Homo sapiens: one gene and its partner. The protein of the gene in region 1 interacts with the protein of each later gene in a biochemical or structural test. Each region holds a gene or a part of one and is shown in the gene's direction. Other genes may lie near its edges.

What was found.
Region 2: of the proteins of LBR (region 1) and SRPK1, one has a biochemical effect on the other in vitro, tested with the Homo sapiens proteins (one study listed by IntAct).

The regions. Positions count from the first base shown.
Region 1 is NC_000001.11:225,422,674-225,439,313, reverse strand, and holds the start of LBR (delta(14)-sterol reductase LBR), read left to right. Parts: upstream 1-11,275; 5' UTR 11,276-11,360; intron 11,361-11,421; exon of another isoform or gene 11,422-11,983; intron 11,984-15,224; 5' UTR 15,225-15,238; coding exon 15,239-15,403; intron 15,404-16,640. UniProt on the Homo sapiens protein: Catalyzes the reduction of the C14-unsaturated bond of lanosterol, as part of the metabolic pathway leading to cholesterol biosynthesis.
Region 2 is NC_000006.12:35,834,099-35,849,897, reverse strand, and holds part of SRPK1 (SRSF protein kinase 1), read left to right. Parts: exon of another isoform or gene 1-2,094; intron 2,095-7,293; coding exon 7,294-7,363; intron 7,364-11,468; coding exon 11,469-11,561; intron 11,562-14,409; coding exon 14,410-14,594; 3' UTR 14,595-15,799. UniProt on the Homo sapiens protein: Serine/arginine-rich protein-specific kinase which specifically phosphorylates its substrates at serine residues located in regions rich in arginine/serine dipeptides, known as RS domains and is involved in the phosphorylation of SR splicing factors and the regulation of splicing.

The DNA.
Region 1 (16,640 bases):
AGCTGAGACGGCGCTATTGCACTCCAGCCTGGGTGACAGAGCAAGACTCTGTCTCAGAAAAAAAAAGGGAGGATGAGGGAATAGGGAGTGGGTGAGCAGGGGCTCAAGAGGGTCTGTGAAAAAAATTATAAAATGCAGGAAGTGGGGGTTGGTCCATGTGCAACCCATCTGTTTACTTACTGGTGCTTATGGAAGTTAGGCTCCTACCCTCCCACAGAGGCAGGGAGATGGGGGCCTTGTCTTCAGGTGTTGGCTGGAACCAACAGTAAATTCCCTGGGCAGCCTCGAGTTTTCTCAGGCAGGCATTCTAAGAGGGGCTAGGGCCATCCTAGGGAAGGCCCTTGAGCTGTTAGAAACTATGCTAGCATTTGATCAAGTCTTTTTTTTGAGACAGAGTCTCGCTCTGGCAGTTGCCCAGGCTGGAGTGCAGTGGCATGATCTCAGCTCACTACAACCTCCGCCTCCCAGGTTCAAGCAATTCTCATGCCTTAGCCTCCAAGTAGTTGGGAATACAGGCATGCTCCACCACGCCTGGCTAATTTCTGTATTTTTAGTAGAGACGGGGTTTCACCATGTTGGCCAGGCCGCTCTCAAACTCCTGACCTCAGGTGATCCACCTACCTTGGCCTCCCAAAGTGCTGGGATTAGGGCGTGAGCCACCACACCCGGCCTGATCAAGTCTTTATAGTCCAAGGATAGCACTTAGTTGAGAAGAGGGCTGAGAGGAGCCTGGGTGGAGTTTTGTTAAGGAGAGAATTTTTGTAAGTAGTATTTATCGTTGGTTTGAGTAGGTATTAATGAGCAAAGTATTTTCAAAGTAACTGACAGGAATTTATGTTGTCCTTTTGAGTGTAATAAAGAGGACTAATTATTAATGGGAATCCCTAATCTGACTTTATGATTTGAAAACCTTAAGAAGGGAGCGATATCCTGTTAAATTCATGTTCAGTGCTGAAGAATTTTTTCCAGAAGCTCATACATTATCCAGCAGGCACAAGGACAGCTGAAGTATGTTTAAGGATATGGCACTTCTTTTTAAAAATGAACACAAAGGGATCTGACTAGCCTGCCTTGGCCAGGAGGAGGAGCCCCCTTCTGGCAGGCCTAGCAAAGGAGATGTGGGAACTGGGCATCTTTCCTTCTGGTCAGGATGGGAGTTCTGGCCTTGACTTACGGAGCAATAGGAGTTCTCTATAGGACCAGGAAGATGAATACACAAAACATCAGTAAAAGTAAAATAGAAAAAAGAAGTAGAACTTTTTTTTAAAAAGGGAGGAACTATATATTTGCAGAAATGACATTTTTGAATAACAGAATAACACAGACCAGGTAATTTATAATGAACAGCACTAAATGCCTGCCTCTGGTGAGGGCCTTCTTGCTGTGTCACTCCATGGCCAGAAGGTGGAAGGGCCAAGAGATGAAAGGGGGCTGACCCTGCCCTTTTATAATGGCAGTAATGCCGCCCATGAGGGTGCAGCCCTCATGGCCTGATCACCTCTTAAAGGTCCCACCTCTCAACATTGTTACGATGCCAACTAAATTTCAAATGAATTTTGGCGAAGACAAACATTCAAACCATAGGACTAAGTAAATAAAAACCATATCTGTATAGTCAAATAGGATTAAAGTAGACCTAAAAATGGCATTGTGTTTGGCAATATGACTTACCGTGGAGAATGACTGGGAACTGTCAATTCAGAGTAACATGACTTGCTTTGCTACAGCAGTGAAATTTCTGGGATCCTAGCCTCTTGTATCTAAAGTAAGCAAGCAAAATATCATCAGCAACTTAGTATGAATATATAGTTTTTTTCTGCTGAAATACTCATGCCAATTAATACTTACAGTTGTTGAATAACTATCAAGCCAACTCTGTACAACTTTCAAATAAATCTACGTTGCAATTATATGTCATCTGTTTAAAAGGATAAAATATTGATATTTTTAGTCATTTATGTAGGTGTGTGTTATGACTAAAATGATTCAATACACTACTGTGCTCCAAATAGGTTTTATGTTGTACCTCTTGCTCAAGTAAAATGAAAAAATTTAAAACAATTATGCAAATTTGGTTTTAAATATTCATCTCAAATATTTTATATTTTATTCCCCTTAAATGTGTTTTAAACAGATTTAATCACATTGGGTACTGTACTAAGTGTACTACAAAGATTACAGTGATCCTGCCCTTGATATCATACCTACAAGTGAATATTCTAAGATAGTCCCTGGAAAGGAAGACATAAAGACAGTCCTACAGAATCCAGAATAGGTATCAGAATTAAAATAGACCAGCCATGGAAGAAAGAATCAAAGGGTGAGAGACAAGGACAAGTTCACATGCATGGTGCTCTTTGAGAGAGCAGGGATGAGTGTTCTTTGCTCCAGAAATGTAGACAAAACGCCCACAAGCTATATTCTCATTAGCCTGGGATGTCTCCAGCTGACATTGACAGTGGGATCATGTAATATGAATTGTGTGTGGCGACCGGAAGTCAATGGCTAAGGGAGCTAAGAGGCTGCTTGGGGACCCTAATGGGTTTGGAGGGTAGAAAGAACATATGCTTTGGAATCCAGAGAACTGGGTTAGAATTTCTTTTCCAGCCCCAATTTGGTGGGTGCGCTGTATTGCAACTTTGCTGACCTGAGTCTCAGTTTCCTCGTCCTGAAAGAGGGGGTGATGCCTATTTTGTTGAGTTGATTTGAGCCATAAATAAGGTAAGGACTGGTAAGTGACACAGAACAGGGCCTCATTAGAAATGAGTCCCCTTCCCTCTCCTTCTCTTTCTCCATTGTTCTGATGCCAACTGTAGTTGCTACACACTTTTCCTAAAGGGTATGGTGTAGTTTTGTTGATAGAGTGGGAGCAATTGCTGAACAGACATGAAGTGCTAAACATTAACACTGATGGGCTGAGCCTTATCTTGTCCAGAAGGGAAGCAACATGGTAATTACATGTTACCTAGATGGTACTTTCTGTTCCACAATTGAGCCCCCGTCTGCCTCTGAATGTAGACTTTGGGTGGGAGGTGGGGAAGAAGGCTGCCCTCTGGGACTCGCAGTTTTAGCAACCATGCCAAAACAAGCCATGCACCTGTGTTCCCTGTAGGTTTTAAAAAGAAACATTTAGTTACATATTCTGAATTAAGAGAGATGGTGGCAACCCAGGTGGAGAAAAGGGTATTTAAGCACAGCAGAGTCCCCACCATGGGGCTGTGAGCCTGTGGCAGACAGCAAGAGAGACACCGAAGATAGGCTTCCGCACCTCTCCAGCCGGTGGGAACAGTCAGTGCCAGCGGAGGCTTTATCTCTTCTTGCCTCAGTCCAGCCTGTGGCAGCTCAGTAACTGGAACAAGAGCGTTTACTACCTTCTGACCTTTAGGAGAACATATATGACACAGTTTCATGATGAACACATTCATTTACTTAATGGGGAGAGATACAAGGAGAAATTAAATATACTTCCTGCCTGGGAGGAGTGCAGATGCCCATAACATGGGAAGGCAGTGACAGATGTATGTGGGGACTGCCCTAGGAAGTTTTGCTGGGGATGAGCAAGAACAGGCCACTCTCAAAAGAAGGGGGAGGCATTCCAAGCAACAAGAGAGGAAAAGGCTTATCTGAGGACTCATCAGAAATTTGGTAGAACTGAGGGTGGAGGGGGTGGGAAAGAGAAGGCAGGTGCTGGAAAGAGAAGAGGATGTTGAGCCTACCAGAAATCCATTAGGGTGAGTTTTTGAAGGCCTTGTCTGTGTCATGTTACTAAGTTTGATTTTTTTTTCCTGCAGATAAATATTTCAGGACTCTCTACCTATCCAAACGCATTTTAGGCGAATTTTAAAAAACAGTTATTAATTAGCAAACATTAAAATAAATGTGAATAATAATCACTTCCTGAACAGTCCAAGGACCTTTAAGTTTTAAGATTAATCCAGCGGGTTAGATTTTTCAGTTAGAGTAGCATGGAAGAAAAGACGAAGTTACGTCTTTTATGTTGAAGTGTGCACTACAGGATGATTCAAAGGATTTAGGCGGTTAGAGAAAAAACAACAAACGCATTAAAACATTATTGACACATCTGCTACTGAAAACACTCTTTCATCTATTTATAGTTGACTAAAAATGGTGACTTAACGAACTTGAAATAAAATGATTACACTAAGGGTTATGATTGCCTGATATGTTCTAACAGGTATATAGCATTTAATCCTCACAATTACCTAGTGTACCTTGTGCAGAATGGGTACACTTTTTTGTTTTTTTTTTTTTGAGACAGAGTTTCACTCTTGTCGTCCAGACTGGAGTGCAGTGGAGGGATCTTGGCTCACTGCAACCTCTGCTTCCCGGGTTCAAGCAATTCTCCTGCTTCAGTCTCCCAAGTAGCTGGGATTACAGGCATGTACCACCACGCCTGGCTAATTTTTGTATTTTTAGTAGAGACGGGGTTTCGCCATGTTAGCCAGGCTGGCCAAACTCCTGACCTCAAGTGATCTGCCTGCTTTGGCCTCCCAAAGTGCTGGGATTACAGGTGTGAGCCACCGCACCTGGCCAGAATGGGTACTTTTTATCCCCATTTTACAGATGAGGAAATCAGGACCTGGATAACTTGCTGGATAAGGGCTGAGTGGCAGCCCTGGAGCTTCAGACACTGCATTCCTGGCCCAGTGTCACTTCCATGGTCACTCTATGCCCTTTAGTTGAGGTAGGAGGATCTTTTGATAGATCGAATGATATTGACATCATTCTCATAGTTTTTTCCTATTATGAGCTGTTACTCCACCCCAGCCAGGCTGGTCTTCACTAATTTCTCCTTGTACTGAGTGTTGGATCAATCTTAGAATTGTCTCCCTCCTTCTCTCCACCTAATCAATCGATCACCAAATCAATCAATTAATTCAACAAATAGTCACCTATTATGTGCCAAGAACTATCAACAAAAGCAACATAGACCTGGTTTCACTAGAATTATAATCTAGTAAATTCTGGTACTGAATTCTGTTCCTCTTTCTGGCTGGCAATAAGTAACGTAAATCAAGGTTGCATGTGCTTATGCATCTGACCGTCTTGCTAACGCAGGTGCCTGCTCTAGAACCTATGATGAGAACATATGCTTTGGAGTCCGGAAAAACTTGGTTTGAAGCACAGCTTGCCACACACTGTGTGATCTTTCTGATTCTCAGTGTCCTCATTCAGTTTAAATGTCCTTTACCCTTAGTTTTAATTCTTTATTATTATTTTTTAAAAAGTAAATTTCCTTAGAAGTTTTCAGAATACATTAATTCTACAGCCAGTAAAGAAATAGTTTTCCAAAACAAGAGAGCACACTTTGCCAGAGCAGTTAATCTCATGATGCTCTGGCCAGAGAGGAGGAGAAGGCTGTATGGTGGCAGCCACTCCCATCCCTGACAGCCCCCTCTCCCTACCCCCCTACCTCTTGGCCAGTCTCTTCAGCCTGGCCAGCAGGTATGGACTCTTATTAATCTAAGGCTCAACATATCATCAGTCCTTTGGGAAGACACTCGGGTGCTGCACAAGCTTCAGAACAGCTTTCTAGTATTCCTTTCTATAAATCAAGTAAGTGGTTTAAAGCCTCAGATAGGAAACCGTGAAGGAAAATAAATCATTACGGTCACCATGACCTATCTTTTCGCCAGAGGTTCTCCAACTGGAGCCTGCTTCTATCAGAATCCTCTGGAGAGCTGGATGGCTGAGCCCACCCCAAGCTTCAAGCTTCAGGAGCGGACCTGAGAAGCTGCATTTCTTTCTTTCTTTTTCTTCCTTTCTTTCAGATGGAGTTTTGCTCTATCGCCTAGGCTGGAGTGCAGCAGCACAATCTCGGCTCACTGCAACCTCCGCCTCCTGGGTTTAGGTGATTCTTCTGCCTCAGCCTCCTGAGTAGCTGGGATTACAGGCATGCACCACCATGCCCAGCTAATTTTTGTATTTTTATTAGAGATGGGGTTTTGTCATGTTGGCCAGGCTGGTCTTGAACTTCTGACCTTAAGTGATCCGCCCACTTCGGCCTCCCAAAGTGCTGGGATTACAGGCATGACGCACCGCACCCAGCCAGAAGCTGCATTTCTAACAAGCCCCCAGGAGAAGCTCTGCTGCTGAGCAGGGACCATACCTTGAGAACTCCTGCACTTTGCTAGTTGGTTTGGGAGACAATGGAATCACACTGCCTTGGATAAGTCTGGGGAAGTATTAACCTCCCCATACCTCCTCAGTTTCTTCAGCTATAAGATCACCTACCTGGGACAGCTTTTATGAGGGTAAATCAGTTAGAACACAGGGAGCACTTTGAGCAACAGCTGGGGGCGAAGTAAAAACTGAACAAAGATTATTTATCATTATTATTACCTCATATCCTGCTGCTGTTTTCCCTCTATCAACAAGTCATTAAAGCACACATATCCCACATCTTCTAAGTTCCTCCACTGAAGCAGTATACTTGCTCCATCTATTCAAATAGTTTCCCCTTCTAATTTATGTATTAACAAATAAATGTTTAATATTGAGAATGTTTAAATAGGCTTGGGCATCGTGGCTCATGCCTGTAAGCCCAGTGTGTCCAGAATTGGTGGGTTCTTGGTCTCACTGACTTCAAGAATGAAGCCGCGGACCCTCACGGTGAGTGTTACAGTTCTTAAAGGTGGCGTGTCCAGAATTTGTTCCTTCGGATGTTCAGATGTGTTCAGACTTTTCTTCCTTCTGGTGGGTTTGTGGTCTCACTGGCTCAGGAGTGAAGCTGCAGACCTTCACAGTGAGTGTCACAACTCATAAACGCAATGCAGATGCAGAGTGAGCAGCAGCAAGACTTACTGCAAACAGCAAAAGAACAAAGTTTCCACAAAGTGGAAAGACACCTGAGCATCTTGCCACTGCTGGCTTGGGCAGCCTGCTTTTATTCCCTTATCTGGCCCCACCCACATCCTGCTGATTGGTCCATTTTACAGAGAGCTGATTGGTCTGTTTTGACAGGGTGCTGATTGGTATGTTTACAATCCCTGAGCTAGACACAAAAGTTCTCAAAGTCCCCACTAGATTAACTAGACACAGAGCACTGATTGGTGCATTCACAAACCCTGAGCTAGACACAGGGTGCTGATTGGTGCATTTACAAACCTTGAGCTGGACACAGAGTGCTGATTGGTGTATTTACAATCCCTTAGCTAGACATAAAGGTTCTCCAAGTCCCTGCTAGATTAGCTAGACACAGAGCACTGATTGGTGCACTTACAAACCTTGAGCTAGACACAGGGGGCTGATTGGTGTGTTCACAAACCCTGAGCAAGACACAGAGTGCTGACTGGTGTATTTACAATCCCTTAGCTAGACATAAAGTTTCTCCAAGTCCCCACCAGATTAGCTAGATACACAGTGCTGATTGGTGCATTTACAAACCTTGAGCTAGACACAGAGTGCTGATTGGTGTATTTACAATCCCTTAGCTAGACATAAAGGTTCTCCAAGTCCCCGCTAGACCCAGGAGCCCAGCTGGCTTCACCTAGTGGATCCTGCATCAGGGAGCCCGCCAGTCCCACGACCTGTGCCCACACTACTCCTCAGCCCTTGGGCGGTCGGAATGGGACCGGGCGCGTGGAGCAGGGGGCAGCGCTCATCTGGGAGGCTCAGGCCGCTCAGGAGCCCATGGTGTGGGGGAGGCTCAGGCATGGCAGGCTGCAGGTCCCCAGCCTTTCCCTGCGGGGAGGCAGCTGAGGTCCAGCGAGAATTCCAGCACAGCGCTGGTGGGCCAGGCCGGCACTGCTGGGAGACCCAGCGCATCCTCCGCAGCTGCTGGCCTGGGTACTAAGCCCCTCACTGCCTGGGGCCTGCGGAACCGGCCAGCCGCTCCGAGTGCGGGGCCTGCCGAGCCCACGCCCACCTGGAACTTGCACTGGCCTGCAAGCCCAGTGCTCAGCCCTGGTTCCCACCCACGCCTGTCCCTCCACACCTCCCCGCAAGGTGAGGGAGCCCGCTCCGGCCTCGGCCAGCCCAGAGAGGGGCTCCCACAGTGCAGTGGCAGGCTGAAGGGCTCCTCAAGAGCGGCCAGAGTGGGCGCCGAGGCCGAGGAGGTGCAGAGAGTGAGCGAGGGCTGCTAGGGCTGCCAGCACGCTGTCACCTCTCACCAGCACTTTGGGAGGCCGAGGTGGGTAGATCACTTGCAGTCAGGAGTTGGAGACTAGCCTGGCCAACACGGCCAAACCCCATCTCTTCTAAAAATACAAAAATTAGCTGGGCATGGTGGCGTGCACCTGTAATCCCAGCTACTCGGGGCTGAGGTGAGAAGATTGCTTGAACCCAGGAGGCACAGGCAGTAGTGACCCAAGATCGTGTCATTGCGCTCCAGCCTGGGTGACAGAGGGAGACACCATCTCAAAAAAAAAAAAAAAAAAAAAAAAGAGGATAAGTGCTGCAAACATACATATAGTATGTAGAAGAAGTTTCAAATAATTTTTAAATTGCTATTGAGATGGACATAATGCATCATGTTAATTGTGAGCTCCATTTCTGTGTGAATAGAAACCATATCAAACATCATCAGTAGAAATGTGTTTTTATCGGACAGCTTTTGAGGTACCTCTACCTTATGAATAAAGGCTTTCTGCAGTTTGCAGCATACAGAAGTTTGTTCCTTATGTAACAGTACCAAAAGAATCCAACTGGATCTCACGCCACGTGAAACTTTACCTACACGTCTTTCCTGAAAGAGATGTTTCAATCCTGGGAACCGAGATCCTCTGGAGACCAGAGCCAAATAACTGCCACATTGGAATGCATTCCGCTGGGGGTTCCTGTATTTTATATATGAAAGCTTCCTGGCCGCATGTGTGTTTTGGTTGGCTTTAGTGGCAGGACTGAAGGGTTTTGCTTTGCTTTTGTTATGTGAATGGGGAAAGGGGCTTTGCCACTCATGGCCTCATTAACAACAATGGTGCCAAGATGCGGACTTTTAAGTGACTTTTACTTTATAGATTCTGAAAACCCACAACTTGCTAGTTGTGAGTGACAAGCATCTTTCTGAGAACTTTCTGAAAATTCCCCACTTCCAAGTTTACACAGCCTTTAGTAGACTTAAAAAAGAAGAGAAAAATACCAAACAGTTCCTTTGTTGAGAAAGCAGCCTACATATAGATCTGATTGTTCATGGTATGTTTGAGTCCACGAAGTAGAAATGAACAAAAATTATTGCTTAGTTTTCCTGATGTCAAATCAGTTTTGTTTTAAAAATGTCATTAGTAATTTATTAGGTAAAATGTTAGCTAAGCTAACTCTAGTTAATTTACAAAGTTTTGGCTTCATTTTGTTATGATGAGACTTTATAAACCTGATCTTTAAAATAAGGTTCTTAAAATTTTTAAAAATTTATTTTATTTATTTTTTGAGACAGAGTTTCGCTCTTCTTGCCCAGGCTGAGTGGCAGTGGCATGATCTCAGCTCATTGCAACCTTCACCTCCCAGGTTCAAGCGATTCTTCTGCTTCAGCCTCCCGAGTAGCTGGGACTACAGGTGCTCGCCACCGTGCCCAGCTAATTTTTGTATTTTTTTAGTAGAGATGGGGTTTCACCATGTTGGCCAAGTTGGTCTCGAACTCCTGCTCAGGTGATCCAACCGCCTCGGCTTCCCAAAGTGCTGGGATTATAGGCGTGAGCCACGGCGCCTGGCCAGGTGTTTTTTTTTTTTTTTTTGAAACGAATCTTCTTCTATTTCACAAGTGGAAATCATCCAGGAAATGTGCACCTCAAGGGAAATCCAGTGAAATCTTGATTCTGGGTAGAACATATGAGAAAAGAATAGTGTAGCACTCACTGCTTGGCTATTTGGGATAGGATCTGTCTTAGGTCCCCATAAGCGCTTTTATTTCTGTGTAATTTACTGCAAAACTCTATGAGGTAGGACTAATATTATCTTATGTCAAGGGTTAAGACAATTGAGACTTGGGGGTTTGTCAAAAATAAAAGATTTTCTGACTTTGGAGTGCGATGTGCATTTCTGTTGCACAGATCTCCACCAAGGGCAAATTCGATGGCAATGACAATTTGATGTCAGAACTTCTCAGGAAAGGCTCTGATGAACTCATTCACACTGCATGTGAATGACTGAGAAAACTCGATGTATTTTCACTTTTTTTTTTTTAAGAAGTAAACCTGGGTGTTTTGTAGTTCTATGAGAAAATGAAAGCTGAAGCTAGGCTATAGATGAAAAGTTCTATTCATTATTACAATTTAATAATGCTTCCAAAATAGCAATTCACTTAAATATACCTAGTTAGGGTGTTAAGAAATACTTTGATTAAAACCACACTGCAAAATAGGGAACTTCAATGGACTGCTTTAAACTCTCGACCTCAAAGGAAGGAAATCAACTAACCGATAATGAAAACTAGCAGAAAAAAAAAAGCTTAGGATCCGTAACAGATTCGGAGTCAACAATGACATGACTCAGCATTTTGGGGTTCAATTAAAACCAGGCTTGTAGGTTGCAGGTCAAGTTGTGTTTCGGTGTGTAACGCATAAAACTTCTTGTTCCACGCTCCGCGGTGTTGGGGATTTTCTACTGCATCTCGACAGCATCTCGGGTAACAACCGAGCCCCTCCTCGCAGCGTAAGTCGTAGGAGCCCTCGGCCATTCTTCCCCCTCCCTCCCGCCGCCGGTCCCAGCATCGGTCCGGGTTCGCTTCTACGCAGGTTCAGCGGCCGCGGACACAAAAGCGCCCCTGCTCGCCTTCGATGCCGCTGCTTGGTCCAGGGGCTTCTGTGGGATTTTAACACGCTAAGGAGGGCACTCATAGTGTTTTACCGAGAAACGCTTTCGAGCTCGGATCTTTGGTGATCACTTCAAGAATGTATTAGTTTTCTTTGTAGCTTAAAAAAAAATCTCGTTCGCCAAGCCACCTGGCACCCCAAACACTGCTGCGAGCGCTGGGAGGGAAAGGGCGGGAGCGCGCGGGCTCCGTGTGCTGCGAGGGCGCCTGGGCGGCTGAGATAAGGCGGTGGCAAACGTCGCGCTCCGGGCCGCCCCGCCAGACTCGGTTTCCCCCGCTCACCGGCCTCCCCGCCCCCAGGCAGGGTGGGGCGGGGCGGACGCGCCACGGCGCGCGACCAATCGACAGCGCCGGGGATGATTCAAAAGGTCGAGGAGCCAATGGGAGCCCCGGGCGGCCTCGCCGGTGGGGAGGGGAGGCGAGGGGAGGGGAGAAGCGCCGCGAGGCGGGGCCGGGGAGGCGCGCGCCCGGCTTGCGGGACTGCGGGGCGCGAGAGCGCGGCCGGGTAGCGTCGCGCGCGTGGATCTGCCGCCGGGTTGCTGTGCGACTATTCTCCGGGAGCCGTCCGTGTCACCGCCGGAACCTGGCGCAGGTGAGTGCTTCCACCCCCGCCCTGCTCCCAGCTCCCCGCGGCGCGTTCTTCGAGGGGCCGCTGGGGGAGGAAGCCCGAGGCCGGCGCAGCGGCCGGGCCGGGGACCCTGGGCGCGGGGCCTGGCGCGGCGGCCTTCCCCTCCTCTCCTCGCCTCCTCGTCTCCTCCCCTCCTCGCCTTTTCTGGCCCAGTCGGGTGGTCGGGGCGGCGGCGGGCGAGGCTGGAGCTCGCCCGAGCCGGGCCCGCTGCGGAAATGGAGCTGGGGGTTTTAAACTGCGGACGTTTCCCTCCATGTTGGCGGCGCGGCGCGGCTGTGGAGCGGCGGCGGCAGGGAGGGTTCGTGGGCGCCTTTGTCCTGCCCCACCGCAGCCTGGCTCCCGGCCCCTCCGAGCGCCCGTCTGACAGATGAGCAGGCGGCCCCGCGGTCCTGCAGTAGGAGGCTGACAGGGCGCGGCGGCCTGGCGGGACGGGGAAGGGTCTGCGGCCGAGGTGGGCTTAGATTCGCGCTGCTTGTCACTGGCTTTGAGGGTCGTGGTCGTCGCGGTTTGGTGATTCTCCAGGCACACTGCATGGCTGCTCGCTCCTATGCGTTGAATTCCTTCGCCCGGACAGTCTCAAAAATCGGGTATTTAGGCGGGTGTGCGTGTTCCTGCTAAAGCACGGTCCTGCTTTTTCACCTTTTTGAGGGTTCAGAAAAATGTTCTAATGACAGCCAGCCTCGCACTGCCAGTAGCCTCAAGGGGCACTTAGTAAAGCACTTGCTTTCGGAGGGCTTTGTTGAAGGCGCTTTCCCAGAGTGATTACGGGGCCCGGTCGGGTGTTCACACGAGGGCGCGGTAGATACCGTGGTCCGCGCGTGGACACCTGCAGCGCGAGGCGCGGCGCCTGGGCAGTGCCAGGGTGAACAGGCCCCCGGGGACCTTGCACGTAAACACGTGTAGATCTGTAGTTACGCATTGTAGTAACTGGTGTGTGGGAGAAGATGGAGCTACGGAGAAGAGCAGAGGGATCCTAATTTAGATTAGGCAACAAGTCCAGTTTAAGTTTTGTTTCTCAGGCTGCCTGGGAAGAGGGAGAAGAACGAGCAGGAGGGGAATGATGAGCTGCCCAAGGATGTTTATGGGGAAGAAGGCGCTTCTGCCTTTACAGCCAGGAAGGTGGCCTTTCTGTTGCTTCATGAAGCAAAGGGCGCGGAGCAAGGCCCGGGGTTCCTGTTTGCATTTTGCCTAGTGGGGCTACCGGGGCTCAGGTGTGAAAAGGAAGCTGTCCAACGTCATTCGAGCGTCTTGCTCTATGCCACGTTTAGATGAATTTGGAGAAGTGAAGGAAAGATGGCTGGAGACCCCTGTAATGTTAATGAGCAGAGAATTGTTGTGTTCACAAACAGTAACATACCGGAGCTGGAATGTGTGAGGATTGCAGTGCCAGTTGACTCTGAAGTTAGCGGGCATCTGGCTTAATAGAGAAAAACCTGAGGGTCTCCGTGTTTTTCCTGTTTATGGCGAATGAGGACATTGGGTGCAGTGAACAAAATTTTTCTTTACAAACACACTTGCCTAAAACATCTCTTGTAAGAAAATCCTGTGTGTATCTTGACTCCTGTAGGTGAGTGCATAGTGAGTGACACGAACAAATGTGGGGCTTTTGTGTGCCATCCTGGCTATTTCACTCCTGTGGGGGAATATATTAGGATGTGATTGCACTGTATCCTCACGTTTGACAATTGTGTGTGGATCTTGTGTAAAGTGGGGGTGCACATCATGTTGTTGGCTTCATCTTTTGGAACATTTGTGTATAAGATAATGGTCTTCTAAGAAGAATGCCGGTTCATTTTGTTTGTTTTTCAAGCAAATCTTAATTCTTCTTTTAAAAAGTAAGCTTTAGAGACCTAACAGGTATCCACCATATGTGTTAACTTGTTTAACCCAGAATAATTGATAAGAATCTTTTTGGCACTGGCCTGCGTTTATATTACACAGATACTGTGTATGTGGTGTGTAAGTGCAATGGAAAGATGCCAGTAAATAAGTTTTTAAGAACACGCAGAAACTGTTCAAGGGTCTTTTAAAACCTCAAGTAGCCCCTGCGTCCTGAAGGGCTTGTGTTTCAAAAGTTTATAAAGAGTTTTTTGCAACTTGAGCATCTTCCTGTAGGAAGACATAATTGCCTTCTTTTAACTCTGGCTGACCAGTGTAGGAGAGCTAGTACTAGTAAGAGTGGTTTGATTTTGGGGGGCCTAGGGAGGAGGAGGGGGCTCAAGAGAAGAGAGAAGGAGGGTACATTTCCTTCCTCTTTCTTTGTACTTGGAGGCTCTGAGCTAAATGTTGAAATAGGCAAAGCTGGATGTTGTCACCTTCCGTTTTTATGCCCCTGCTCATGCAGAGGTGTTCACTGCCCCCCTGCTCCCTAAGTGCCCCTCGGGTGACTCAGCCAGGCCTGACTTCATCCCGAAAACTTGTGGGCTCCTCCCCACTACTCCAAGCCCAAACCCATTCATTACCCCAGTGATGCCCAATCTCAGGTAGGTGTAGGGAAGAAAGCTGCCTCTCTTACCTAATGTGTTAATTGACTGACATCCTCTAATCACCAGATAAGTACTTGTGTTTTCTTTCATCTACCAACCTAGCTGCCATCTCTGTAAACTAGTAGAGCTTGTTAAGTTTTTTCACAGACGATTAACAGTGAAAAAATGTGGTGGTTAAGAAAGGCCTCCCTCACCCCGCCTCCCCCCCCACTCTCCCACTACTCCCTTGGGGTAGGTAATTCAACTTTCTCCTTAATTCCAGAGTCTTCAAAGGTTCCTAAATGTTGCTTTTATTGTATCATCAGCTCTTAACAGGAGCCAGTGAGGAATGTACATTGATAGGCTTGGACAATACATCAAGAAGTGCTTAGTTGGTGAAATGAAGGTGATTTGGGAGACAGCTCATATCTGTCCTACTGGCTGCCCCTTGGACGTGGCCCCAGCTAGTTCATGTGGTACTGGGGAAGGTCGGCAGCCCTGGTTTTGTTGTGTGGAAATGTGATTCCGCTGGTCAGCCGATGGAGCGGCATTACTGTCTGGCAGCTGGAAGTACCCAGCTATCAATTGATATTTCAAAAAGGGTGGCAGACAGGCCTCACGTAAGTGGCAGTTCTTGCAGATTGCTTGTGGATTCCTAGAGTATTGTGGGGCTTGTGGGCCATGTTTTGAATCAGAGGAAAAGAATGTTATAATTGGGGGTTGATGGCTGCTGTAGGCTTGAGAGAAGTGAGCTTGGATGAAGGCAACCACCCTGGCTTAGGTGGGTGGTTGGCAGAGTTACTTGGTATGCATTTGTACTTTAGCTGTAAGAGTTGAAAGCTAAATAACCCCCAAATTTATTCATTACAGACTTGGAATTATTTTTCTTCCTATTGTTGGGTTATAGTCATGTTAATTGTACATCCTTGATTTTCCCAGTCTGGTTTATAGTTTGCTGTTTTTAATAAAGGCAATTTGTTAAAAATACAATTAAATGCATTTTTAAAGCCATTGTAAATTGATACGCAAATTTACAAATGAGAAAATGTGTTCTTTGTGAGATTGTGCCTCATTTTTTGATTAGCGAGAACTGTGATCACGGTAGGTGGGTAACATTTTACATAGTGTGAACTTATGGCGCCTATATACATTGTTATAATTAATCTTTAGTGTCACATAGATAACGCAGTGGCTAAATCATCCTCTCAAATGATTCCAAATGAGATTGAATGTAGCCTTTCTGGCCCTAAAATCCTGACCAGTCAATTCTGGAAAGTTGTATTTTAGTGATCAGCCTGTGGAAAAAGACGAATACATAAATGTGTATGTATTGACTCAAATTTTTTTCTTTAAAACTATTCAGGTTAATTATAGAAAATGCCAAGTAGGAAATTTGCCGATGGTGAAGTGGTAAGAGGTCGATGGCCTGGGAGTTCACTTTATTATGAAGTAGAAATTCTGAGCCACGACAGCACCTCCCAGCTTTACACTGTGAAGTATAAAGATGGAACAGAGCTTGAATTGAAAGAGAATGATATTAAGGTAAGAGCTCCTTTGGTTTATCAGAGTGTGTTTACAGTAAGTGGGAAATAACTCTAAGTATGGTTTCTAAGCTCAGGATAGTCAGTTCAGCTCGGTTTGAAGGCAGAGGATTGAGCTCTTGCTTTGGGTCACATACTGTTTTTGGCTCTGGGAATGTATGAATGAGGCATAGTCCTTGTTCCCAAGAAGCTCACACTTACTGGGAAAGACAGCCATTTGCATCTGTTGGTCCCCTGGGTTTACTACGTTCTGTGTCTGGAGTTTGCTGTGGGTGGTGTTGAGTGTATCAAGGGTAGAGAAGAGCCCTGGGCTTCAGGGGAGGCTTTCAGAGGCAGTGACACCTAGCCAAGTGCTGAGAACAAACAGGAAAAACAGCAGTTGATGGGGCTGTTTCTGCAGAGAGGGCAGTATGCCAAAGTCAGGGGTCTGGGGGACACAGTCAGCCAAGTGCTGGAAGGGGGTGGTAGGGGAGGGCTAAGCAGGAGCCAGGCTGGGGGGGCTTTTATATTCCATGCCCAAGGGTTTGGGCTTCATCCTGAACACCAAGGATTTAATCAGGAGAGTGACATTAATTAGATTCGAGTCTAGCCCAGGGCTTTTCAACCTGTCTGGTGAGGGCCTGGGTTTTAAGATATCTGATCCGTAGTATACAAACATTTATATAAAATGCCATAAAAATGAGTTACTAGAAAAATAAAGACATACACAATAGACGACTCACAGTTTTACTATCAGATTCGATAGATATGAGATTACTTTGTCAAAATGCTATAAACATTTCCATACACCTATTTCTCAATTTTGGTACTTGCACAGATTAGTAACGAGCATTTCTAGGACCCATGGCTGAGGATGACACTTCGAGTGCTCTAGACCAGGAATAAAGCACAGAAAGTAAATATTTTAGACTTTATGGGAGCGGCTCCAGGCAGTATGGAAGGGAGCAGACATGGCAGTGTTCCAGTACAACTTTATGGACAGTGAAATTTGAATTTTGGATAATTTTCACACTTCAGGAAATACTGTTCTTTTGATTTTGTTTGTAATCATTTAAGAATGTAAAAGCCATTCTTAGTAGGAAGGCCACACAAAAATTGGGGTGAGGGACTTGGCCTGGGGCGTAATTTGTCTACATCCCTAGAAGCAACATAAGGAGATTCGGAGTAGGTGGGGACACAGTGAAACAGTTCCCAGTCATCCAAGCTCATGTTTTATTTTCAAGATCTGCTTATGTGTT
Region 2 (15,799 bases), on another chromosome or scaffold:
GAATTTCCATCTTGTTTTTAAGGCTGAATAGTATTCCATTCCATTGTGTATACAAGTTGAATATCCCTAATCTGAAACACTTGGTACCAGTTTCAGTTTGGGGAATTTTTTAGATTTTGCAATATTTGCAGAATACATACTGGCTGAACATTTCAAATCCAAAAATCTAAACTTTGAAATGCTCCAAATGAGCATTTCCTTTGCGTGTCATGTCAGTTTTGGATTTTGGAGCAACCTGTATATACCACATTTTATTGTCTGTTTATCTGATCTGTATAGACTCAACTTAGATTGATTTTAAAATCAACTTAGGTTGATTCCATAACTTGGCTATTGTGAATAGTGCTGCAGTGAACATGGGAATGCAGACATCACTTAGACAAACTGATTTTAAATCTTTGAGGTAAATATCCAGAAGTGGGATTGCTGGATCATATGGTAACTCTATTTTTAGATTTTTAAAGAACCTCCATATAGTTTTACATGAGGGTTGTACTAATTTACATTCCCACCAACAGCATTCAAGACTTCCCTTTGCTCCACATCCTCACCAACACTAAATATTTCGTCTTTGTGATAACAGCCATTCTGACAGATATGAAATGATATCTCATTTTGGTTTTAATTTGCATTTCCCTAATGATTAGTGATGTTGAGCTTTTTTTTTAATAGATCTGTTGGCCATTTGTGTGTCTTCTTTTCAGAAATGTTTATTTAGGTCCTTTGCCTGTTTTTTAATTGGGTTTGTTTGTTTGTTTTCTTGCTATTGAGTTGAGTTCCATATTATTTTGGATATTAACCCCTATCAAATGTATAGCATGCAAATATTTTTTCCCAACCCATAGGTTATCTCTTCACACTATTGTTTCCTTTGCTGTACAGAAGTTTTTTAGTTTGATGTTATCCCATTTGTCTGTATTCACTTTTGCTCCCTGGGCTTTTGGGGTCAAATCCAAAAAAATCATTGCTCAGACCAATGTCATGTGGGTTTCCCCCTGTTTCTTCTGGTAGTTTTTCAGTTTCAGGTCTTATTAAGTCTTTCATCCATTTCGATTTTTGTATTCGGAGTGAGATGAGGGTGGTCCAGTTTCATTCTTTTTATATCCAGTTTTTCCAACACCATTTATTGAAGAGACTATCCTTTTCCCATTCTGTATTCTTGGCAATTTTGTCAAAGATCACTTGACCATACATGCGTGGGTTCATTTCTGGGCTCTCTATATTGTTCCTTTGGTCTATGCGTCTGCTTTTTTTGCCAGGACCATGCTGTTTTAATTACTGTAGCTTTGTAGTATAGTTTGAAATCAGGTGGTTTGATGCCTCCAGCTTTGTTCTTGTTTTGAGACAGAGTCTCATACTGTCACTCAGGCTGGAGTGCAGTGGCGCAATCACAGCTCTCTTCAGCCTCCGCTTCCTGGGCTGAAGTGATCCTCCCATCTCAGCCTCCCAAATAGCTGGGACTACAGGTGTGCCCCACCACATCCAACTATTTTTGTATTTTTTGTAGAGGTGGGGTCTCCCTGTGTTGCCCAGGCTGGTCTCAAAACTCCTGAGCTCCAGTGATCTGCCCACTTCAGCCTCCCAAAGTGCTGGGATTACAGGCGTGAGCCACCATGCCCAGCCCAGCTTTCTTCTTTGTGCTCATGATTGCCTTGGCTATTTGGGATGTTTTGTGATTCCATGTGAATTTTAGGATGTTTTTTCTATTTCTATGAAAAATAATATTGGAATTGTGATAGGAATTGCATTGAATCTGATAGATCACTTTGAGTAGTACGGACATTTTAACAATAGTAAGGCCGGGCACAGTGGCTCATACCTGTAGTCCCAGCATTTTGGGAGGCCAAGGCAGATGGATTGTGTGAGACCAGCCTGGGCAACATGGCAAAATCCCATCTCTACAAATAATTTAAAAATTAGCCAAGTGTGGTGGTGCATGCTACTTGGGAGGCTGAGGTGGGAGAATCACCTGAGGCTGGGAGGCAGAGGTTACAGTAAGCCGAGATTACACCACTACAGTCCAGCCTGGATCACAGAGCAAGACCCTCTCTCAAAAAAAAAAATAAAATAAAAATAAATCTTCCAAACCATGAACATAAGATATATTTTCATTTATTTGTGTCTTCAATTTCTTTTATCAGCATTTTATAGTTTTCAGTGTACAGGTCTTTTACCTCCATGGTTAAATATGTTTCTAAGTATTTTTTTTTTGTAGCTATTGTAAATGGGATTGTTCTCTTGGTTTATTTTTCAGATAGTTGTTAGTTTACAGAAATGCTGCTGATTTTTGTGTGTTGATTTTGTATCCTGCAACTTTACTGTATTTGTTTATTAGTCCTAACGGGTTTTTGCTGGAGTCTTTAGGGTTTTCTATATATAGGATCATGTCAGGCCAGGCTTGGTGGCTTATGCCTGTAATCCCAGCACTTTGGAAAGCTGAGGCAGGAGGATCACTGGAGCTCAGGAGTTGAGACCAGCCTGGATAACATAGCGAGACCCCATTTCTACCAAAAGAAATGAAAAAATTAGCCAGATGTGGTGGCACATACCTGTAGTTTCAGCTACTTGGGAGGCTGAGGAAGGAGGATCACTTGAGCCCCGGAGTTGAGGCTACCGCAAGCCATGATTGTGCCACTGCACTCCATCCTGGATGACAGAGCAAGACTCCATCTTGCCAAAAAAAAGTTATGTTATCAGCTAACTGACATTTGTACTTCTTTCTTTTCTGTTTGGCTGCCTTTTAATTGCTCTAGTAAGGACTGCCAATACTACAATACTATGTTGAATAGAAGTGGGGAGAGTCTTGTTCTGGATTTTAGAGGAAAAGCTTTCAATTTTTCACCATTGAGTACAATGTTAGCTGTGGCCTTCTTAAATATGGCCTTTATTGTGTTGAGGTACATTCCTTCTATACCTAATTGTGTGAGCATTTTTATCATGAAAGGATGCTGAATTTTGTCACATGCATTTTCTCCATCTAATAAGATGATCATATGGTTTTTGTCTTTTTTTGGCAGTAGCAGGGGCAGTTTGAGACAGATTGCTGTTACTTCTTCGTTATATGTTTGGTAGAATTCAGCAGTGAAGCCATCAGGTCCTGGGCTTTTCTTTGATGGGAGACTTCTTATTACAGATCTAATCTCTTGTTTCTATTTCTTCATGGTTCAATCTTTGTAGGTTATATTGTCAAGGAATTTTTCCATTTTTTTCTGGGTTATCCAATCTGTTGCCATATGATTGTGCATAGTAGTCTCTTATCCTTTGTAGTTCTGTGGTATTCATTATAATGTCTCCTCTTTCATTTCTTCATTTCTGATTTTTTTAGTCTTTTTTTTTTTTTTGGAGACACAGTCTCACTCTGTCATGCAGGACGCAGGTTGGAGTGCAGTAGTACAATCTCGGCTCACCCTCCTGAGTAGCTGGGACCACAGGCATGTGCCACCATGCCTAGCTAATTTTTTTGTATTTTTGGTAGAGACGGGATTCACCATGTTGCCCAGGCTGGTCTCGAACTCCTGAGCATGAGTGATCCACCTGCCTCAGCCTCCCAAAGTGCTGGGATTACAGGCATGAGCCACTGCGCCTGGCCTATATTCAAATTTTTATACAACATATCTTTAGATTTTTTTTTTTTCTTAAGAGATGGGATCTCACTGTATTTCCCAGGCTGGTCTTGAACTCCTGGGCTCAAGCAATCCTCCCGTCTTGGCCTCCCAAAGTGCTGGGACTACAGGTGTAAGCCACCCTACCTGGCCTCTTTAGAAATTTTTTATCTTTCTAAACTGAAACTCTATATACCATTGAAGAAAAACTCCGTGTTTCCCTTTTCCCCTATTCTTTGGCAACCTTTTAAATTTAAAACAGACTTTATTGTTCCAGCCTCCAGCCCTGCTCTGGAATTTTACTTCCCTTTGGTATGGATTGTTGAAGACAGGAAATTTGAATCATCTGTTAATTCCTTTTTTCTAAAATAACATTTCCAGCACTTCAGCCTTTCTTAATGTGGTCAAACCTGGGGTCAAGATAAGGGCCCTTAAGTTAATACATTGAGCACACCTGCATCTCTGCAGAAGGCCAAGCATCAGGACTCTGACTTGTCTTCCTCACTTTGAGACAGCCATTGGCCAGCCCATTGATACAGATGATGGACATGTTACTTTATAGAAACAGCTCTTACCTGAAACTCCTCATTTTCTGTTTGGTAATCACTCCTTGGCATTCTGACCACACACAACCATATTGCTTATGAAATGCTAGATTGCCCCTCAAGCTGTGTCAGTATTCCTTTCTGCTACCTGGAGTTTGCAATTTACTTCTGGATCTGAATGTAATTAGTCTGTTTAAATTGTCATTGTTTTAACTTTTCCATGCATTTCATGCTATCTTCTAAGCCATTCTTCTCAAAGGCAATAGTCTAGAGAAGGTTAACAAAGGATGGTACACTGGTTTTATTTGGGTTTGTTTCTTAATAGACTTTATTTTTTAGAGCAGTTTTAGGTTCACAGAAAAATTGAACAAAAAGTACAAATAAGTTTTATATGCTCCCCACACACAGAGCCTCCCCAACTGTCGATCTGCTGCTCCAGAGTGATACATTTGTTACAAACAATGAACCTACATTGGCACATCATTATTAACCAAAGTCAGTAGTTTACATTTCATTTCACTCTTTTAGAAGTTTTGACAAATGTATCTATCATTATTATATACAATATCGTTTCACTGCTCTAAAACTCCTCTGTGCTCTGCCTATTCATCCCTCCCGTCCCCCACTCGCTGGCAACCACTGATATTTTTATTGTCTCCATAATGTCAAATAGTTGGAATCATACAGTATGTAGCCTTTTTAGATTAGGTTCTTTCACTTAGTAATATGCATTTAAGGTTCCTCCATATCTTCACGGCTTAATAGCTCATTTCTTTTTAGCACTGAAGAGTATTTCATTTTCTAGCCTCCTGAATAGCTGGGACCACAGGCGTATAGCACTGCCGCGGCTGGCTCTGTGTTTTTTGTTTTTTGTTTTTTTTAACTTTAATTTCAGTATTTTTACTGAACTCTATATATGAGACCATGAGATTTTTTTTTAAAGTACTGGTATCAGGAATGATTGACAAGTTTTGGTGAACAAGAATCATGATTTGTTTCTCTGTTGCTTTGGGACTATAAACCTCGGAACAACTCAGGGTAGAACAAGTATCTGCTCTATCACTGTGGTTCAGTTTCTTAATAAACAACTGAAATGTAAAATAAGCAATGCCAAGCAAGAAGCCATAGCACTGCTGACATTTAGAGATAGTATTTGATTCCTAAACCTATCCTGAAACTTCTGGTTTTGTGGTCTCCCTCTGGACGGTAGTACAGTTTTGAGAAAGGCTGTTCTGTCATGAAACTGCAGAAACTGACACTGGTGAGCCACCAGGACCTAAACTTGGGTCTAAATTGAGAATATGCCCCAACTAAGTCCTGGACTCTACAGTTCTTGAGGTTGTTTGGACTGCTTAGTACCATTGATTTAATCAAAATTGACCTATGACTAGCGCTTATTTTATAACTGTGCTTCCCTATCAATAAGGTCATTTTTTAAAACTGCTGTTGGCCAGGCGTGGTGGCTCACACCTGTGATCCCAGCACTTTGGGAGGCCGAGGCAGGCGGATCACGAGGTCAGGAGATCGAGACCATCCTGGCTAACATGGTGAAACCCTGTCCTACTAAAAATACAAAAAATTAGCCGGGCTTGGTGGCGGGCACCTGTAGTCCCACCTACTGGGGAGGCTGAGGCAGGAGAATGACATGAACCTGGGAGGCGGAGCTTGCAGTGAGCCGAGATTGTGCCACTGCACTCCAGCCTGGGCGACAGAGCGAGACTCCATCCAAAAAAAAAAAAAAAAAACTGCTGTTGTGTACTAATTTTTAAAACTCCATTTGTAATCAGTGAGGATTTATGTAGCCCTGCTTTTCATTCTGCATGGCACTTATTCCCAAGGATATCATTTCCTAAGACACTCTCGAGCACTGTAAGAGGTTTTTCTATTAAAGGAGACAGGCTTTTCTTTTCCTAATTAGGGAGTGCTGACTTGCCAGTCACATAGGCTAGGCTCCTGACTCCCTTTACACTTAATCTTCTGATTTTCTAAAGACCTACGAATTGGCCAGGCATGGTGGCTCACGCCTGTAATCCCAGCACTTTGGGAGGCAGAGGCGGGTGGATCATGAGGTCAAGAGATTGAGACCATCCTGGCCAACATGGTAAAACCCCATCTCTACTAAAAATACAAAAATTAGCTGGGCGTGGTGGCATGCACCTGTAGTCCCAGCTACTCCGGAGGCTGAGGCAGGAGAATCACTTGAACCCAGGAGGCAGAAGTTGCAGTGAGCTGAGATCATGCCAGTGCACTCCAGTCTGGCCGGCAGAGCAAGATTCCATCTCAAAAACAAAGGACCTAGGAATCAGGAACTTCCCATCTGGGACAATCTAGGGAGTACTTCCTATGCAAAAGTTAATGATGTACTTGTCAAACACTAAAGAGTCATAAGTAGAAGTCTGAATTTTTTTTTTTTTTTGATTTTTTTTGTTTGGTACAGAATCTCAATTTCTAGCCATGTGTGATTATAATGTAAGAAAGACCTGGGCTGGGCGTGGTGGCTCACACCTGTAATCCCAGCACTTTGGGAGGCCAAGGTTGGCAGATCACGAGGTCAGGAGATTGAGAACATCCTGGCTAACGCAGTGAAACCCCATCTCTACTAAAAATACAAAAAATTAGCTGGGCGTGGTGGTGGGCACCTGTAGTCCCAGCTACTCGGGAGGCTGAGGCAGGAGAATGGTGTGAACCCAGGAGGCGGAGCTTGCAGTGAGCCGAGACCGTGCCACTGCACTCCAGCCTAAGCAACAGAGTGAGACTCCGTCTCAAAAAAAAAAAAAAAAGACCTGTTCTTCTCATGAATAATAACTTAGAATCACCTTAATATCCAGGTATGCCCCTTTCCGGCCAAAAAAGGGAAACTCAGGAGGGCTGAATTGCTAGGGTTTAGGGTGGGGAGGTTTGGGCATGAAATAACCCACATGTTAGTATTTACTGAGTCTTTGCTGTTTTCTCCATTTTATTAAGATAGGGATGTGGAAGGAATGCTTTAGGAATAATCTTAAGTTTTTGTTTTTTTTTTTTTTTAAATGATCTATAAGTTTTCCCAAGGGAACAAGAGTTACTTCATATTGAGCCAAATAGCAATCAGCTTTCCAAAGGCCTTCTTTTCTTTTGTGCTTTCATATACTGTCCTCTTTTTTTTTTAGGCCTTTGAACTGGCCACAGGTGACTATTTGTTTGAACCTCATTCAGGGGAAGAGTACACTCGAGATGAAGGTGAGTCCCCTTAACCATGGATGTGTGTGCGTGGTATTTACACTTTCCACATTAAGCTAACATCATTTGTTAGTACCGAAGAGCCTTAGTCTTGTTAGTGTGCAAAACATGTAAATCCCAGAAAAGTTAGAAATATAAAAGACATTTTATATTAGGTTTTTAGATATTTTCTGAAAGATACTAAAGAGCTCTGTCAGAGTCAAAAGGCCACAGTTCACCTAAAACTTCTGTGTGCTGGACAATTTTTTCTTCAACATCTAGTTATCTTCCTTTCTGTATATATCAGTGGTTCATTCTTTACCCAGTTTTTTACCTGCTCATCAACCTGTTGCTCAATTATGCCTCCAAATTTATTTAGAGGTCAGTTATTTTAATATACACACACTACTTGAATGCAGAGACTATATCCTATTTCTATAAATTCTGCCAAAATTTAGCATTCTTTTTTCCCTTTTCTGAATATAAAACTAATTTTTTCTTTTTTGGAATTCCATTTTAAAACAAAGTAGAATGGATTTACATGTTGTGGTAGCCAGTGGGAAAAGCCTAGGCTGCCAGTTACTTTGTCTGAGAGACTGTGGAAGCAGCAACTGTGTGTGTCTGATTTTTCTATTATGATGGCATCCAGATAACTAAATGAGTTAATAATTTGAATGAACAAACAAAATGGTTTTGTGATTTTTTTTTTTTTTTTTTTTTTTTTTGAGACGGAGTCTCACTCTGTCGCCAGGCTGGAGTGCGGTGGTGCGATCTCGGCTCACTACAACCTCCACTTCCCTCGTTCAAGCGATTCTCCTGCCTCGGCCTCTCGAGTAGCTGGGACTACGGGCTTGTGCCACCATGCCCAGCTAATTTTTGTATTTTTAGTAGAGACGGGGTTTCACCATGTTGGCCAGGATGGTCTCTGTCTCTTGACCTCGTGGTCCACCCACTTCAGCCTCCCAAAGTGCTGGGATTACAGGCGTGAGCCATCACGCTCAGCCAAGAAAATGTTTTATACAGTTGAGGCAGCTTATGTTTTAGTTGTAGGATTAATGAGGATTATTTTGAGATATCACTACAGCATCTACCCTCCCAATGTAGAGCATGTTCTTTACTTTTTGTGCTTTCCTTGAATCTTTGGGAATGCATATTTCATGCTGTATGGAACCAAGAGTGCTCTTTGTTTCTCAAAATGTGGTCTTCTGGGATATTAATAGGTAATGTTAGTAGGACCTGCTAATATTCCTAATGAATACCATTTGGAAAATGCTATGCTATGTAATTCCCATGAATGCCTATTTAAGTGGGTAGAGTTTGGACATATTTTGTATATATAAGCCCCATGTTAGAGGATACTATAATTACTACTTGATTTTACCTACTCTCTGCTTGCTATTTTTCTGGGTTATAGGTTTAGGGTTATAGGCTTACAGTGTTTGGGATTATAGGCCTAGAGACTACCTACTATGTTTGTTTGGGAGGGTAATTAATTTTTTTCCCCTTTACTTCCCTAGATTCTCCATAAATGGTAGTGTGTGGTACAGAACACATATAGTGGCTAGAATTATATCGGGTGTTACCTTATGCTACCAAACCTGAAAATTTTAATACATATGCAGAGTCCCAAATAAGGGGACAAGGAAAAACCATCTTCCCTAGATGTTTAAATTCTAATTTATTCCATCCTATACCAGTTAGTACTAATAGTCCTTAGGTCAAACATCAGCCCCACCGATGCTGTTCTGCTGCAGTTTGACCTATAAGAGCAGGAACAAGCAAACCCTTACCCCTGACTAGTGTGTGCATAGTTTGTTACGAGTCGTGGTAGGACAGAAGCCTGAGTACCATGTCCTCTACTCTGGCTTTCCACAGCCCTAACTCATGGGATAATACCTGATAATTTTATCTGTCAAGTATATCAATCCTATCATAAGCCAAAATAGGTTGCAAGAATTAAGTGTAAAGTAACAATTTCAAGGGAATTCCTTGGTATAGGAAAAATATTTAAAGGACCAATATTTTACTTGGAAGTTTACTTAAGTTTCTAAGAACTTTAAGAAGCTCTCTTAGAAATTATAGTCTAAGTTTTTCCTTAGTATTCTTATTTTTGTTATTGTTAATGGTAAAAACACATTTGCAGGTCCTGCCAAAAACCAGCAGAAAATTCTTGGCATGCAGGTACTTGTTACCAAACCATAAATTCAGTCAAAACTGCTCAAAGGTTGTAGGGAAGTCATAAATGTGAAGTCCCCTTTAAATGACACCACTAACTCCTTTACATGAGAAAGATAAAACCTGAAACCTTCACAAATTCCCAGATAATATGGACGTCTCTAGCATGTTATTTCCCCTATAAGATACATAACTGGAAGTTTAAACCTTAATGATTCTGTAACTACACGATAAAAGTATTTTCTAAAGCTTTTTTTCTGGCCAGGAGTATTATGCCCGGGTGTGGTGGTTCACGCCTGTAATCCCAGCACTTCAGGAGGCTGAGGTGGGTGGATCGCTTGAGCCCAGGAGTTTGAGACCAGCCTGGGCAACATGGCAAAACCCCATCTCTACAAAAAATACAGGCCAGGCACAGTGGCTCACACCTGTAATCCCAGCATTTTGGGAGGCCAAGGCGGCAGATCACTTGAAGTCAGGAGTTCGAGACCAGCCTGGCCAACATGTGAAACCCTGTCTCTACTACAGATACAAAAATTAGCTGGACCTGGTGGTATGCACCTGTAATCCCAGCTACTCAGGAGGCTGAGACACAAGAATCACTGGAACCCAGGAAGTGGAGGTTGCAGTGAGCCGAGATCATGCCATTGCACTCCAGCCTGGCGACAGAGCAAGACTCCATCTCAAAAAAAAAAAAAAGTTTTATATTCTTAACTTCTGTCACCTGCAGAGAGAAAAAAAAAAGGGGGGGGGCAGTAGATCTACCTGAGGTGTGTGTACTGGTTGGTCCCAGACTCACCTCCTGGTTAAGAGGCTGCATGCCTCCCTGGTTGTGCTCATGGTCCATATTCATACTGTGATGTTTACAGATCATCAAGCAGCTATACTTTAAAATGTTTGTGCTAATCTTTACTTTTAAAAAGTGATTTTAGGAAGAAATTAAAAGCTTTAGACAAGACATAAGATCATTGGTTTTCATCTGAGTTTTAGCTCATATTAGCCCTGAAGTTTCAAGTTAGGCCATTCATGCTTTTTGAAGTTCTATTTTCTCATCTTTAAAATGGGGTATCAGCCAGGTGGTGGCTCAGGCCTGTAATCCCAACACTTCGGGAGGCCAAGGCAGGAGGATTGCTTGAGCCCAGGAGTTTGAGACCAGCTTGGCAGTATGCCAAGACCTCATCTCTACAAAAAATGTTTTAAGTCAGCCAGGTGTGGTGGCACATGCCTGAAATCCCAGCCACTGGGGAGGCTGAGACAGAATGATCACAAATAATAGTTCTAGAATGCCTAACACATATTTGGACAGTTTTTTATCTTACCTAAAGAACCTACCTGAACCTAGATATATAGACAAAATAGAACTAAAGATGAAGATAAGCCTCCAAAATCCAGAATGGGACTTGCCAGACACTATCGGGTGACCAACCACCTGAAATAATTCTTGGCCTTCCCAGTCAGTCTTCCTTCAGTATCCTTGGTTTTATTTGTAGTTACTTTTAAACAGCTAGTCCTTGAAAAAGCTATTCATAGAAAAACCTCTTTTACAGCTTGTCCTTGATCTGTTCTTCTTACCCTTCTATTTTAGACCACATTGTGCACATTATAGAGCTGATAGGCAGAATTCCAAGACGCTTTTCCCTCAGTGGGAAATATTCACAAGACTTCTTCAGTCACAGAGGTAGTATTGTTATGTAGGACCCAGGGATACTTCAGGAAGCAGAGCATTCACACCAAGATTGTTTTTAGTTATCACTGAATCCACAAAAATTTGACTTTGTGAATTCTCCATTAGATGGATAGAGTCTTCCTCTTCCCATTTAGGATAGAAAGTAAGCCTGATAGGCTTTACAAAGAGATGTGCATGCTGCTCCTTCTGCTGTTTTCTAGAGCTGCATTTGTTACTCTTGTTACGGATCTTTTTTTTCCCCCCTCTTGAAATGTTTGAAATATACAGATCACATTGCATTGATCATAGAACTTCTGGGGAAGGTGCCTCGCAAGCTCATTGTGGCAGGAAAATATTCCAAGGAATTTTTCACCAAAAAAGGTAAAGTAAATGTGTTCCCAGACATTAAGGAGGCAGAAGTGTTTAAAAATGAAGAGGTAAGCACATATTCCCAATGTCCTACAGAATGATGGGCCTGCCTTGAATGCTAACCTGTGACTTAGCAAAGAGATAAAAAAGAGGTAAAAAAAGTGGTCAAGAGCAGAGACTGAGCCGGGCGCGGTGGCTCATACCTGTGATCCCAGCACTTTGGGAGACCAAGGTGGGCGAATCACAATATCAGGAGTTTGAGAACAGCCTGGCCAACCCGGTGAAACCCCGTCTCTACTAAAAATACAAAAAATTAGCTGGGAAGAGTGGCGGGCGCCTGTAATCCCAGCTACTCAGGAGGCTGAGACAGGAGAATCACTTGAATCTGGGAGGCGGAGGTTGCAGTGAGCCAAGATCGCACCATTGCCCTCCAGCCTGGGCAACAAGAGTGAAACTCTGTCTCACAAAAAAAAAAAAAAAGCAGAGACTGGAGCCAGGCATGGTGGCTCACGCCTGTAATCCCAACACTTTGGGAGTCCAAGGCAGGAGGATCACTTGAGTCTAGGAGTTCAAGACCAGCCTGGGCAGCACAGGAAAACCCTGTCTCTACAAAAAAAAATTTTTAATTAACTGGGCATGGTGGTACACACCTGTGGTCGCAGCTACTCCGAAAGCTGGGGTGGGAGGATCACTTGAGCCTGGGAGGTCAAGGCTGCAGTGAGCCATGATTGCCACTGCACTCCAGCATGGGCAACAGAGCAAGATCCTGTCTCGGGGAAAAAAAAGAGCAGAGACTGGAGCCAGACTGTCAAATCCTGGCTACTCCACTAGCCATGTGACCTTTGACAGGATCTAACTGTGCCTCAGTTTGCTGATTTCTTAATGGAGATAATAATAAAGTATACTTCTTACTAACAGTTAATATGTATAGTGCCTGCATGCAGTTGGTTGATTACTTCTATAGCACTTCTGAAAAATGGGCAAATTTTTTGCTGGCGTTTGGTCTAAGAACTGCCTCTACCAAAGGGCAGGTAATTTAAGCTTCTTACATAAGGGCAGGGACTACATCTCACTCATCTTTGCATCCCAGTGACACCTAACACAGTCACTCGAAGTACATTAGTCATACAAACGAACTTCACACTTTTTAGTTTTATGTATTTGTTATTACAAAAAAAACCACAAAAACAAAACTTCCAATTTTTGACTTGATAATATATTTCTTAAGCATTGCAAAAAAAACCTGAAATGTGAAAACCTGACCTAGAAGCATCTAGGAAATGGTCTGGTTTTTCTACCCCCATTGTGCCATGGTTCCCTTTTTCCTCACAACTTCTACAGAAGTGCTGAGAAAAATGACTTTTCTCAATCCTTGGCAGGAGCCATCCTCAGAAACATTACCCTTTCTTAAACCTCTTTTTAGGTGGGAAAATTGTAAAATGTTTCATAAGAGTTCCTCCTCATGTGCAGTCAGATTAAGGCATGTGTGTTTACCAGGTAGGTAATCAAATAGGCACTCACTGCTCACAAAAGAGACTTAAAATTTTTATGTTTAAAAAAAATTATTATTATTATTATTATTATTATTATTATTGAGACAGGGTATCACTCTGTCACCCAGGCTGGAGTACAGTGGCACGATCTTGGCTCACTGCAACCTCCACCTCCCAGGTTCAAATGATCCTCCTGCCTCAACCTCCCAAGTAGCTAGGACCACAGGCATGTGCCACCATACACAGCTAATTTTTTTGTATTTTTGGTAGAGGCAGGGTTTCACTATGTTGCCCAGGCTGGTCTTGAACTCCTGAGCTCAAGTGATCCACCCGACTCAGCCTCCCAAAGTGCTGGAATTACAGGCATGAGCCACTGTGCCTGGCCAACTTAAAATTTTAAAGCAGCATTTGCCTTAGCTATTAATAATTGACTATCTTTTAAAAAGTTGTCACTTCAAAGAAGCAATTAGGTTGATACTCCAGTATAGTGTAGAGCAGCGGTCCCCAATCTTTTTGGCACCAGGGACTGGTTTTGTGGAAGACAGTTTTTCAATGGATGGGGGGGTTGGGGGGTGGTTTGGAGATAAAACTGTGTCACCTCAGATTGTCAGGCATTAGGTTCTTTTATGGAACATGCAACCTAGATCCCTACTGCAGTTCACAGTAGGATTCACGCTCCTGTGAGAATCTAATGCAGCCACTGAGCTGACAGGAGGTGGAGCTTAGGCAGTAATGCTTGCTGGCCCACCACTGACCTGCTGCTGTGCAGACCTGACAGACCGCAGACTGGTACCATAGGGGGTATTGGTATAGAGTTGGGGACCCCTGGTATAGAGTATATGAAGCTGTTGTATCTGAAAACTGTGTAGGATTTGGGGTTTTTTTTGTTGCTTTTATCCATGCTTGACATGATGTTTTAACTTTACTGCCTCACTGTAAAGCAACATTTACTAAACTATTGAGCACATACACAAAAAAAGAGTATAAGCAAATTATTCTCGGTATGTGGTACTAGAGTGTCTCTGCACACCATATAAGACCATGTTGAAGACATAGGCATTTCATGTTTATTTTAGTAGTAAATACCTACTTCTTGATTGTCACACCCAGTTTGACTGGGACCAAAAAAATCCTAGAATAGGGGAGAAAACAAATTACCTTAAATTTTTGGAGCCGTATGAAGAATAGAGGCACTTCTTTCTGAGGCATATGTCAGAAAAGAAATGCTTTGTGAATGAAGGATTAGATTCTGATTGCAAAATTTGATTCCTCATAGACTACATGGGTTAGTTTGTGGGTTTCCACAAGAGTACCTTGTCATTTGTCTGTGTTGATCAGTGGCTTTTTCTGTACTGTCTTCACTGCAGGTGACCTGAAACATATCACGAAGCTGAAACCTTGGGGCCTTTTTGAGGTTCTAGTGGAGAAGTATGAGTGGTCGCAGGAAGAGGCAGCTGGCTTCACAGATTTCTTACTGCCCATGTTGGAGCTGATCCCTGAGAAGAGAGCCACTGCCGCCGAGTGTCTCCGGCACCCTTGGCTTAACTCCTAAGCCCCTGCCCAGCACCACAGCAGAGATCACACACTGACCCTCCGCCCTTCCCCTTCAAGCATTTTCCTCTTCCCTTTTCAGGGTGAAGCTCTTCCTTCAAGAGTTTCTAGATCTTGTTTTTTTTTTAATCCAACATGTTCATTTGGGTTTGCTTACTTGACCCTGTGGAGATCCCCACAGCCATTGGGCATCCTAGGTGAATTTGGCCTTGGTTGGGCTCTGCCAAAGACTAATGGACTAAAATGTGAAACAGCCTCTTGCCCTGTACCTTTCCTTCCCATTAGGACATCCTTTAAATTATAAGCATCCTTTTTGAAAAGAGCTATGAAGGTGTATGAGCCCATCCTTTTATTCATTGACTCTAAGAGTCAAATTTTCTAGTGCATATCCTATTGCCAGCATAAGGATGAGGAGGGGGAAAGGGTCTTAATTCTATGTACAGCAGAGACATTAAACTTGCTGTGTCCGGGCTGCATCATCTTCCTGGACTGTTTCTGTTGTTCTCTGTGTTCACATTTTTTCCTGCAACTTTTAAGCTACTGTCTTTTTTAAATAGCTATATGAACACCAAATTTGGGTACCATTTTATCACTGTTCAAAGCACTGTCAAATTCCTTTCATCCTTTAATAGTTAAGATCTTTGAATCTTCAGTCTGATTTTTAATGTAAGCAAAAACAGAACCATTGAATAGTAATTTCTTGAGAACCTCAGGTGTTCTATAAACAGTCCTTTCCTGTATGTCTTCTATTACCCTAAGACCAGAGTTATTTTGGTTGGTTGTTTTGTTTTATTTTTTGTTTTTGTATCCATGGCTGGCACTTTACTCATTGCACTTGAGTTTATTGCCCCATAACTAAAGGATCAGGATGATGGTAGAACGGAGATCTGGGTTTCAGAGCTTTCCCATTTAAGAAAAATAGATCTTGAGATTCTGATTCTTTTCCAAACAGTCCCCTGCTTTCATGTACAGCTTTTTCTTTACCTTACCCAAAATTCTGGCCTTGAAGCAGTTTTCCTCTATGGCTTTGCCTTTCTGATTTTCTCAGAGGCTCGAGTCTTTAATATAACCCCAAATGAAAGAACCAAGGGGAGGGGTGGGATGGCACTTTTTTTTGTTGGTCTTGTTTTGTTTTGTTTTTTGGTTGGTTGGTTCGTTATTTTTTAAGATTAGCCATTCTCTGCTGCTATTTCCCTACATAATGTC